Regions from separate parts of the Homo sapiens genome. Here region 1 is linked to region 2. Evidence: fine-mapped expression QTL. A gene starts in region 2. The other region holds a variant in brackets. All regions are shown on one strand. Distances are between the middles of the regions.

Region 1 (5,381 bases), 27 kb after region 2:
AATATCATTGTTATAATGTTTTCCAGAAAGAAAATCGTGAATCAGAAGGAAAGACTCCAAAGGTGGAACTCTGACTTCTCCTTGGAACTACATATGGCCAAGTATCTACTTTATGCAAAGTAAAAAGGCACAACTCAAATCTCAGAGACACTAAACAACAGGATCACTAGGCCTGCCAACCACACACACACGCACGTGCACACACGCACGCACGCGTGCACACACACACGCACACACACACACACACACAGAGCTTCATTTCCTGTCTTAAAATCTCGTTTTCTCTTCTTCCTTCTTTTAAATTTCATATCCTCACTCCCTATCCAATTTCCTTCTTATCGTGCATTCATACTCTGTAAGCCCATCTGTAACACACCTAGATCAAGGCTTTAAGAGACTCACTGTGATGCCTCTATGAAAGAGAGGCATTCCTAGAGAAAGATTGTTCCAATTTGTCATTTAATATCAAGTTTGTATACTGCACATGACTTACACACAACATAGTTCCTGCTCTTTTAAGGTTACCTAAGGGTTGAAACTCTACCTTCTTTCATAAGCACATGTCCGTCTCTGACTCAGGATCAAAAACCAAAGGATGGTTTTAAACACCTTTGTGAAATTGTCTTTTTGCCAGAAGTTAAAGGCTGTCTCCAAGTCCCTGAACTCAGCAGAAATAGACCATGTGAAAACTCCATGCTTGGTTAGCATCTCCAACTCCCTATGTAAATCAACAACCTGCATAATAAATAAAAGGCAATCATGTTATAGGAGAAAGGCTGGCATCTCTTTGCAGGCCAAACCTTTTGTAAATACCCAGCTGCCCAACTAAGCAGCATGTTCCTCCCTCTGCAGTGCCCACTGTTTAGTGTCAGACCATAAGCCACTAACATGTTATTGTTCACTCTGTGGGTGGGATGGGTGGAAAATAGAGACCATCCTGCATGAGGATTGGAACAAATGTGGCAACTGAGCTAGGAAGCAAATTAGGTGAAAGGTTGGGGAGCAGATAGGAGAAGCAGGGCACTGGCAGTGGGACGGGCTGAGGCTGACTAAGCCTTGGATTATTGCAGGTAAGGTGTGTGATCCAGCTCCTGTGTGGTGAAAGGAGAGCTTGGCTGAGTGACTCTGGCCCATAGGCTGTTACTATCAACACACAGATGCTGCATTGTTCCCAGGAGGCCCTTGGCTCAGGAGGAAAGTGCCTAAGTGCTGAAGAGCTGAAAAACCACAGATGTACCTAAGGACTGGTCCAAGTGAGGAACAGGGAGTGAAAGGCTCAGTTGTTCTTTCTGTGGGGAAAACTCCACAGCCCCTGGGCGGGAGTCAGCTGCTGGCAACCACACTGTGAAAGCCCCAGTGTAAGGCGTGCCCTTCAGCAACGAGACCAAGGTATTCTGTGGAGGTCACACAGTCCAACCCAGGGCTGCAGAAAACCACCCAAACAGCTTCTCGCTTGAGGCTGAAAAATATTCCTAAGATAGGCACATCCCAGAAGGCTCCTTTGGATCCTGTAAACGAGAGCTCTTGACATTTACGGTCAGGAAATTCTTCCTGATATCCAGCTGAGGTCCTCTGGCCATGGAAGCTATTTCTTCTTGCCCACCCTTTGTGGAAATTCTTAACAGCTTCCAGATGCCCTCCTCAAACCATGCCTTTAACCACTTGCTGGCTGCACTGAAGCCCCTTTATCTAGCCATCTTTCCCCCATACTCACAATCTAACTCTCATCATTTGGTTTTTATCATTTGATTTACTTCATTGTTTTTCTCGCCTCATTCTTTCCCAACTTTTCCTCTTTCTTGCTTAAAATAGTTGGAACCCAAACTATAGTAGGACCCATGAGCTACATTTTGTTTGATATTGTGCTAATTTTTCAATTATTTTTCTTGAAGTGTTCCCCTCAAAAACAATAATCAAAATGGACCACATGGGTCTTAACATCTTTACAATGCATTTTTCTACTTGCTGACATTCAATAACAATTTTATTATATTATTTTATATACTTATTTGTATGTGTATAATATTGAAGTGAATCCTTCCTTCTCATCTTGTAGTTCTTCATAACTGCCAGTTACTTTTGCCGGTCTTCTTCATAGGCAGTCCTGTTCTTTGTAGCTCCGGGGGTCTCATAACCAAAGAATGGGACTTCAGAAAGAAGAAATTTGTAAAGATTCACCCATTTATTAAAGATCAGATCTTTAGAAGGGCACAGTGACTCATGCCTATAATCCCAGCACTTTGGGAGGCCAAGGCGGGCAGATCACAAGGTCAGGAGTTCAAGACCAGCCTGACCCACATGGCGAAACCCTGTCTCTCCTTAAAAAAAAAAAA[C/AC]AAGAAATACAAAAAAAAAAAAAAAAATTGGCCGGGCATGGTGGTGCAGGCTTGTAATCCCAGCTACTCAGCAGGCTGAGGCAGGAGAATCGATTAAACCTGGGAGGTGGAGGTTGCAGTGAGCCGAGATCCTGGATCCTGCCATTGCACTCCAGCCTGGGCAACAGAGAGAGACTCTGTCTCAAAAAAAAAAAAAAAAATCAGATCTTATAAACATCTGCAATTTTTTCTCTGTCTTGAGAATCTTTTGCCAGGTCTACATCCATTTCCCCAGGGCTATGTTATTGTTGAGATGTCTGGATACATCTCAGCTATTTTTCATTGTGGAATCATTCAATGGCCCTCACTGACAAGACTGCCATACTTTTTCTTTAGAGTACGAAGGAAGTGATAATATTATACAATATAAATTTGAAAAAGATGTTAACATATTTGGAAGACTATGATGGAAGGAGCGGGACTGAAGCAGGATTCAAAGGAATGACTGGAAAGTTTGGGTTTGAGTCTCACCTATTCTATGTATGTGCCTCTATGACACTGGAAAAATTACTTTTATCTTTGAACTTTAGTTTATTAAGGTTAATGTAATAATTATTAGGATTGCTTGAGATCCCAGGGTGATAATCCCTATTAAGTAAAGTTTGGCTATTACTTTTCTCTTAAGTTAATACTACATTGCCTTCTCTGGGAAATAATCATTTCTCTAATTGTTAGAACTTACGGGAAGGCAGAGACTTCATTCAGGCTGTTTCTTTGAGGCTGAAAAAGTATTTGAGATAACAGATTTTAAATGTAGCTTTTATTGTTTTCTAGGTATGGGGTGGCCAACAGATCAAAAAAGATAGCCATTTGAAAGATAGTTTATTACTCACAGTTCCCAAGAGGAGGCAGCATGCCATGCTGTGCAGGGCCACATAGGGAAGTATCAGGGTCAGTCAGAAGGCAGAAGGAGTAAAGGTGAAATGACAAGGGCCTTTATTATGGTCTCCATGGGAAGAAATGGGAAAGGGTTAGGAGGGTAAGGAGGCTTAGGATTGGCTGGTTTCGATAATTTCAGCAGGCTCTGGGGCATAGGAGCTTTCCCTTGTTGCCTGGAACCTGGCCCTGGGTGGAGTGGCTGGGTGGTAGCCCAGCATGTGAGAGCCCCATGAGAGTCCAGTAAGGAGATAGTTGGGGTATGGACTCTGGACTGGTTGGTTTGCATATAAAAGCTATACTAGCAGGTGAGTTTATTACTATCTCCAGGAATTGGCTATCTCTAGGAGGGAGGGGCAATCTCTCCAAGGTAAGCAAAGTCCCAGATGTCAAAGCATTAGAAATACATAGTAAAACAGCCCCAACGTCCACTTGTCAGGGGATTCCTGTCCTTCCTCGCCTATTGGGTCATGCCAGAAGGGAAGGCTGCATTCATCAGGCCCATCTTAATACACATATACCTTGAGCAGTCAGGGGTAGGATGAGGGCTATGTAGCGTATTGAGAGAGAGTAGTTTATTTATATACTCATTCACTCATTTAAATATTCATTAAACAACTATGAGTGTGGCAGGCAAAGCTGCCCTCTGAGAGAGAGAGAGCAATTGGTGATGATTGGATGATGAGCTATAGAACAGAGACTTTTCAGTTGTAGTGACAACAGGCAACATGGAAGCCACCAGAATGGTTCTGAGTCACGGACAGAAAGCAGCCAAACAGGGAAAGCAATACACAAAGAAAGAGGTATGTTGTGGAGGGGACTGGGCAGGAGGCTGGCCGTGGGCTGAGGGGGCCCCAGAGCTGGGGGAGGAGGAGCCACAAAGGAAACAGTCCACAACCATCATAAGCTAACTTTATTTCACAATTGAATTTGGAACCAGTCCTATTTATTTCACCTTTCTGAAAATATCTGGTTTTCTAAACAGAGAAAAGTAAGACTGGAAGTGGGATGGATCTGACTCATGGCTCCTAATTGCAGAAACCTTACATGGCGAGACCTAGAGAATTGGAAAAGGAGAAAGTTAAACACGAACACCTTTTGAGTGTTGAACTTTTGGAAAAAAGGTACTCTGGAAATCAAAGAAGCAAGTGAATTTTAAAATCATACCTCTGTAAATTTGAAGGTGATTCACCCTCCTTCGAATCACTTCTAAGATAGGTCTCTCTTTTCTTTCTGTTCTGGAACAAGAAGTCATTGTTTTTGTGGCCTTGACAATGAAATATCTGAGTCATACTAGGGGTGGAAGGATATGTGTGAGTAAAGGATGAGGGTGTTAAGCCACTTCTATAGTTTATGAAAAGTTGTGTGGAATCCAGGCTTTAATGTTTAATTATCCAAACAATTTCACTAAATCTTAATAGCAGGATTTAATTTCTACATTAGCCCACTGGTCTTAAAATGGTAATATGGTGTTAGCATACACTTAAGGAAGAAAAAATAGAGCACGTTTGACATAATTCAAGCTGTGGTGAAGTAACAATTTTAAAATTGTTAATTTTAAAATTAACATTGTATTACGGGTCATGTTTTCCAAGAAGACTCTGCAACTAAATTCCATTGCAAGGAGTTTATTGGGGAGCGTCTGGGGATCTGTGAAGAAATAAAGAAAGTAGGGTTCCACAGAAATATAAGTTAGGCTGCGATGCAGTCACAACAAAGGCTTAGATTATCCCATGTGGATATTTGGTGCTGAGGTTTCCTTGTAGAGTACCCCAAATTGGAGAATGAGACCCAGGCCTCTATACCCCAACATTGAACATCTGATGTTGCAAGCTGCACATAGGAAAGGTGCATGCTCGTGGGCAAGATGGCTCATTTGAGCAGAGGGAGATTTCTGGGCTGGTTGGTGGGTGGGATTCATCTAAGAGCTCTTAGCTGTCAACATACTCAGAGCTGGGAGAAGCTAATGACTTTGGGGTGATCTGTGCGGCTCACCACAGCATCCACTACACATGTCTAGAACTGTATCTCCTTTTATACCATCATAGTTATTGCACCAATGCTATGCAAAAGAATAAGGAAAGGATGGATTCATTTTATCAAATAAAAGATGTAGCACCCTCATTAAGTTTG
Region 2 (5,381 bases):
CTTATAACTGAGAACATATGGAAGTTGGTTTTCTGTTTCTGCATTGCTTTGCTTAGGATTATGGCCTCCAGCTTCATCCATATTGCTGCAAAGGACATGATTTTACTTTTTTATTATGACCATATAGTATATCATGGTATATATGCACCACATATTTTATCCAATCCACCATTAATGGGCAACTACATTAATTCCGTGTCTTTGCTATTGTGAATGGCACAACAATGAACATACATGTGCATGTCTGTTTGGTACAACAATCTACTTTCCTTTGGATATATACATAGTAATGGGGTTGCTGAATCAAATGGTAGCTCTGTTTCAAGTTTTTTGAGAAATCTTCAAACTGGTCACTCTCCATACGTTCGTAAAAATATTATGCCTTGGAATGCTAACGTTACTCCTAAAAATTGGAGTACTCTCCTTGGCCTTACTGTAGAGATAAAAGGTATAGATGTCCTCATTACTTAGAGTTGCTTTCCACAGTGGCTGAACTACGTAACTGCTTAAGCTACATCCCCATGAATAATGTATAAGCATTCCCTTTTCTCTGCAGTCTCACAGTGTCTGTTGTTTTTTGATTTTTTAATAATGGCCATTCTGACTAGTGTGAGATTGTATCTCATTTTGGCTTTGATTTGCATTTCTCTGATAATTAGTAACGTTGAGCATTTTTTGTAGGCTTATTGGCCTCTTGTGTGTCTTCTTTTCAGAAGTATCTGTTTATGCTCTTTGCCCATTTTCTATTGGGGTTATTTGTTTTTTGCTTCTTGATTTGTTTAAGTTTCTTATGGATTCTGAATATTAGACCTTTGTTGGATGCATAGTTTGCATATGCTTTCTCCCATTTTGTAGATTGTCTATCAATAGTTCCTTTTGCTCTGAAGAACCTCTTTAATTAGGTCCCACTTGTCAATTTTTGTTTTTGTTGCAATTGCTTTTGAGGACTTAGCCAAAAATTACTTGTCAAGATTAATGTCAAAAAGAGTATTTCCTAGGTTTTCTTCTAGGACTTTTATGGTTTGAGGTCTTAAATCTTTAATTCATCTTGAGTTAACTTTTTATATGGTGAAAGATGAGGGTGCAGTTTCATTCTTCTGCATATGGCTAGCCAGCTATCACAGCACCATTTATTGAGTAGGGAATCCTTTCCCCATTGATTGGTTTTGTTAACTTTGTCGAAGATCAGATGGTTGTAGGTATATGACTTTATTTCTGGGTTCTCTATTCTGTTCCATTGGTCTATGTGTTTGCTTTTGTACCAGTACCATGCTATTTTGGTTACTGTAGCCTTGTAGTATAGTTTGAAGTTGGGTAATGTGACGCCTCTGTTTTTGTTCTTTTTGATTAGGATTGCTTTAGCTAGTCAGACTCTTTTTTGGTTCCATATAAATTTTAGAATAGTTTCTTTTCTAATTCTGTGAAGAATGACGTTGGTAGTTAGATAGGAATAGCACTGAATCTGTTAATTTCTTTGGGCAGTATGGCCATTTTGAAGATACTGATTCTTCCTACCCATGAGCATGGAGTGTTTTTTCATTTGTGTCACCTCTGATTTCTTTCAAAAGTGTTTTGTATTTCTCCTTGTAGAGATATTTTACCTCCTTGGTTATCTGTATTCCTAGGCATTTCATTTTATTTGTAGCTATTGTAAATGAAATTGTGTTCTTGATTTTACTCTCAGCCTGGACATTATTGCTGTATAGAAATGCCACTAATTTTTGTACACTTATTTTTTTCCTGATACCTTACTGAAATCATTCATCAGTTCCAGTAGCCTTTTGGCAGAGTCTTCAGAGCTTTCTAGGCATACAATCATATTGTCAACAAGGAGAAATAGTTTGACTTTTTCTTTTCCTGTTTAGATGCCTTTTATGTCTTCCTCTTGCCTAATTGCCCTGGCTAGGGCTTCCTAATTTCTTTTGTAATATTTTCACATGAAAATTCTCCTAAGCTTAAAACTACATATCCCAATGCCTGTGGAAATCTCATCTTGGACTTCCTCAGACACTTGTGAGCAAAATCAAACTTCATCTCATTCTTCTGCTTAAGACTTTTCAGTGGTTCCCATCACCTACAGAATAAAATTGATGCTCCCGCGCTTAGTGTATCATATAAAGCCTGCTGTGAGCTGGTCCCAACATGCCTTTCTGTCCACATGTATCACTTCCTTCCTTTTCATCATTCTCAATTACTAGTAATTCTGTCACACATTATATTTGCATATCTGTGCTTTGGTTCTTTTTTTTTTTTTTTTTTTTTTTTGAGACGGAGTCTCGCTCTGTCGCCCAGGCTGGAGTGCAGTGGTGCTATTTCGGCTCACTGCAAGCTCTGCCTCCCGGGTTCAGGCCATCCTCCTGCCTCAGCCTCCCGAGTAGCTGGGACTACAGGCGCCCGCCACCACACCTGGCTAATTTTTTGTATTTTTAGTAGAGATGGGGTTTCACCATGTTAGCCAGGATGGTCTCAATCTCCTGACCTCGTGATCCACCTGCCTCAGCCTCCCAAAGTTCTGGGATTACAGGTATGAGCCACCACGCCCGGCCTGTGCTTTAGTTCTTTACATGAAACTCCCTTTCTACCTTGTGTTGCCTGGCAAAATCTTACTTACCCAGAACTCTGCTCCGGCATCCTCCGCAGGAAGAACACTTTCATTGAACCCTAGCATTGTCCCTAATACCCTTAATATGTATTGTCATAGCACCCTATGAATTTTTCTATATCACTTTCCATCTTATATTTAAATAATCTTTTTACTTGCCCATCTCTCCCACTGATAATCTAAGCTGGCAGAGGCTGGATCAGATCATAATTATCTTTCTATTCTTAGCGCTAGGATCAATGCCTGGCATAGCATATTTACATTTTTTATTTAAATAAACTGACCTGACTTTCTTCTGGTTGGATATGTTCTGAGTCCCTATTACTAACCTTGGTCTTTTATCTCAGAAGTTGAAGGCTCCCCTGGAGCCAGCTGCAAAGTTCCCAAAGCCCTAACAACCCCACAGCCAATCAGCTACAGAGTAGGCTGCCCTGAGTCGGCCTCCCCAACACAAAGTCCAGGGTTGGAGCAGGAGCAGGAGAGGGACAATGGAAGCTGCCCCGTCCAGGTTCATGTTCCTCTTATTTCTCCTCACGTGTGAGCTGGCTGCAGAAGTTGCTGCAGAAGTTGAGAAATCCTCAGGTAAAAGAAAAATGTAGTTGGGTGGCTATAGTGTGAAAGTGTTATTAGGAGAAGGAAAGGGAGCATGGTGGTTCTCTGGGTACTTTTCCTCCACACCTAGAAAGCTTTCCAGGAAATCCTGGATAAGTGCATTTTGCCTGGTAGAGAGTAGGGAAGTCTGGCAGTATCCTTCAGAGACAGACCATCAGTAGGGTCACCTTCCATATGTTAGTAAAAATATTATGCCTTGGAATGCCAACAGTACTCCTATAAATTGTGCTCTTCTTGCCCTTAGTATAGAGATAAAAGGTATAGATGCCCTCATTATTTAGAGCTGCTTCTTCTTGCCTCAGTACCCTGACATCTTCTGCTTCTCTCTCTAGATGGTCCTGGTGCTGCCCAGGAACCCACGTGGCTCACAGATGTCCCAGCTGCCATGGAATTCATTGCTGCCACTGAGGTGGCTGTCATAGGCTTCTTCCAGGTTAGTTCCCTACTTGCAATTCCCCCAAGAGCCAGAAATGTTCTACCTTAAGGGAACCACAGCAGCCACCTGCTGCTGGCAGATGGCACTGCATTAGAAGTGGGGGTAAAGGGAGACAGCCACCCAGTTTGATTTCATCTTGTCCATTGGGACCTCTTATTTTCAAGACATTCCCAGTCTCTAAATTATATCTTTCTCATACTTACTTCAAGAGTTCTGAGCCTGTGGGCTGCATCTCCTCATCTATGGATGCTTTGAAGCTCAAGTCAGTATCTGCAGAAAGAATGCCTTCATGGAACCCCACCATTGTCCTAAACACATTTGGTCTATACTCTCATAGCACCCTATGAATAGGCAGGGGCCAGAGTGAACCCAATTTATATCATCCAGCAACACTGTTTACAGGATGCCAAACATCCTGGACATTAGTCAGTGCACAGCCTTTTAAAGCCTTTCCCCCAAATATGGTAGACTCTCCTTCTTTCTCTTTGCCTTGTCTGAAATGTTGGAAAATGATGGCATTTTGTATATTCAAGGTGTTAACCTCCATCTTCCAGATTAGCTTCTTGACTAAGAAAGGCAGCCATAAATGAGACTGCCTCATTCCAGCATTTTCATCTTTCTCTGGTGGTAGCATCTGGAAATCCTCACAGCTGATCAAGCCCCTACTCTCTCATAGCAGACCTTCTTGTCTGTTTCCATTTCTCAGTTACAACTCCTGATTACCCTGTCAGTTCTGCGTACACAGTTGGAAATCACTGCAATGAGATGCAAGTCAGGGAGAAAGACAGGGACAACATTTTTCAGGAATGAGAAATCTGAGCTGTAGACAAAAACACCGTCAGAAAGATGGGGAAGGGGCAAGAGCATGGAATTGGAGGAGTGTGCAATAACTTAAACAGCCGCCAGATGCCATCATTTTATCCTCCAGCAATTCCATCTGAAGGAGCAGAATAAGAGAGGAGGCCTCAATTAATTATTGTTCATGGCCTCTAGAAGAGTAGATACCAGCTCCCTCTGCTTGACCCCAGATGCAAGACGGGTATGTTAGTTTCTTCTCATGCTGCCAATAAAGACATACCCAAAACTGGATAATTTATAAAGGAAAGAGTTTTAATTGAATCACAGTTCAGCATAGCTTGGAAGGCCTGAGGAAATTTACAATCATGGCAGAAGGAACCTCTTCACAGGATGGCAGGAGAGAGAATGAGCACAAGCAGGGGAATGCCAGACGCTTAAAAAACCATCAGATCTTGTGACTCATGCACTATCACGAGAACAGCATGGGGGAAACTGCCCCCATGATCCCATTACTGCCACCTGGTCCCACCCTTGACATGTGGGGATTATGGGGATTACATTTAAAGATGAGATTTTAGGTAAGGACACAGCCAAACCATATCAACTGGCCATCTTCTTTTCTCCTTGCACATCTCCTCCTTCAGCCTGGGGACTTGCAGGGTAGAACATGTTTGTTCCTGTTAATTTCCTGGAGCTGCTATGGATAAAGGTCCCGTGAGAGCAGGGAAAATGATGCCAGCGTCTATGGAAGGCCTGGAATCACTGTTCGCAAGTGGCTTCTCTGCTGCCTCCTGCAGGCCTGGGCTGCAGAGTTGAATGCGTGAACAGCATCTTCATGTGCAAAGCTCAGGTTTATCTACAGTGGCAAGAGAGGGACTGTCCTTCCATAACCTGCATAAACTTTTGTTAAAACTTCTAAGCTTTCATTTTAAT

Alleles and levels. Alleles are on the strand shown, and positions count from the first base shown. SD is a standard deviation of normalised expression in the study named.
For the expression in regulatory T cells of the gene that starts at base 3,062 in region 2, C is the low allele of the variant in region 1 and AC is the other (moderate effect, 0.47 SD a copy in Bossini-Castillo 2019).

Evidence for each region. PIP is the estimated chance that this variant, and not a neighbour inherited with it, causes the effect. A credible set is the group of variants that fine-mapping cannot tell apart.
Region 1: its variant is the best candidate, but not a certain one, in a credible set for the expression of ERP27 in regulatory T cells (Bossini-Castillo 2019, PIP 0.63).

The regions. Positions count from the first base shown.
Region 1 is chr12:14,909,428-14,914,808 of GRCh38, reverse strand. ERP27 (endoplasmic reticulum protein 27) reads left to right here. Exons shown (of 7, transcript NM_152321.4): 7 at 27-770. The coding sequence ends at 74. LOC124902885 (a long non-coding RNA gene) reads right to left here and starts at 4,702. Exons shown (of 2, transcript XR_007063221.1): 1 at 4,416-4,702; 2 at 4,144-4,305. The variant C/AC (reference allele first, on the strand shown) is at 2,334.
Region 2 is chr12:14,936,218-14,941,598 of GRCh38, reverse strand. It overlaps ERP27 (endoplasmic reticulum protein 27), which reads left to right and starts at 3,062. Exons shown (of 7, transcript NM_152321.4): 1 at 3,062-3,184; 2 at 3,547-3,647. The coding sequence starts at 3,091. RefSeq lists an enhancer at 3,547-3,606.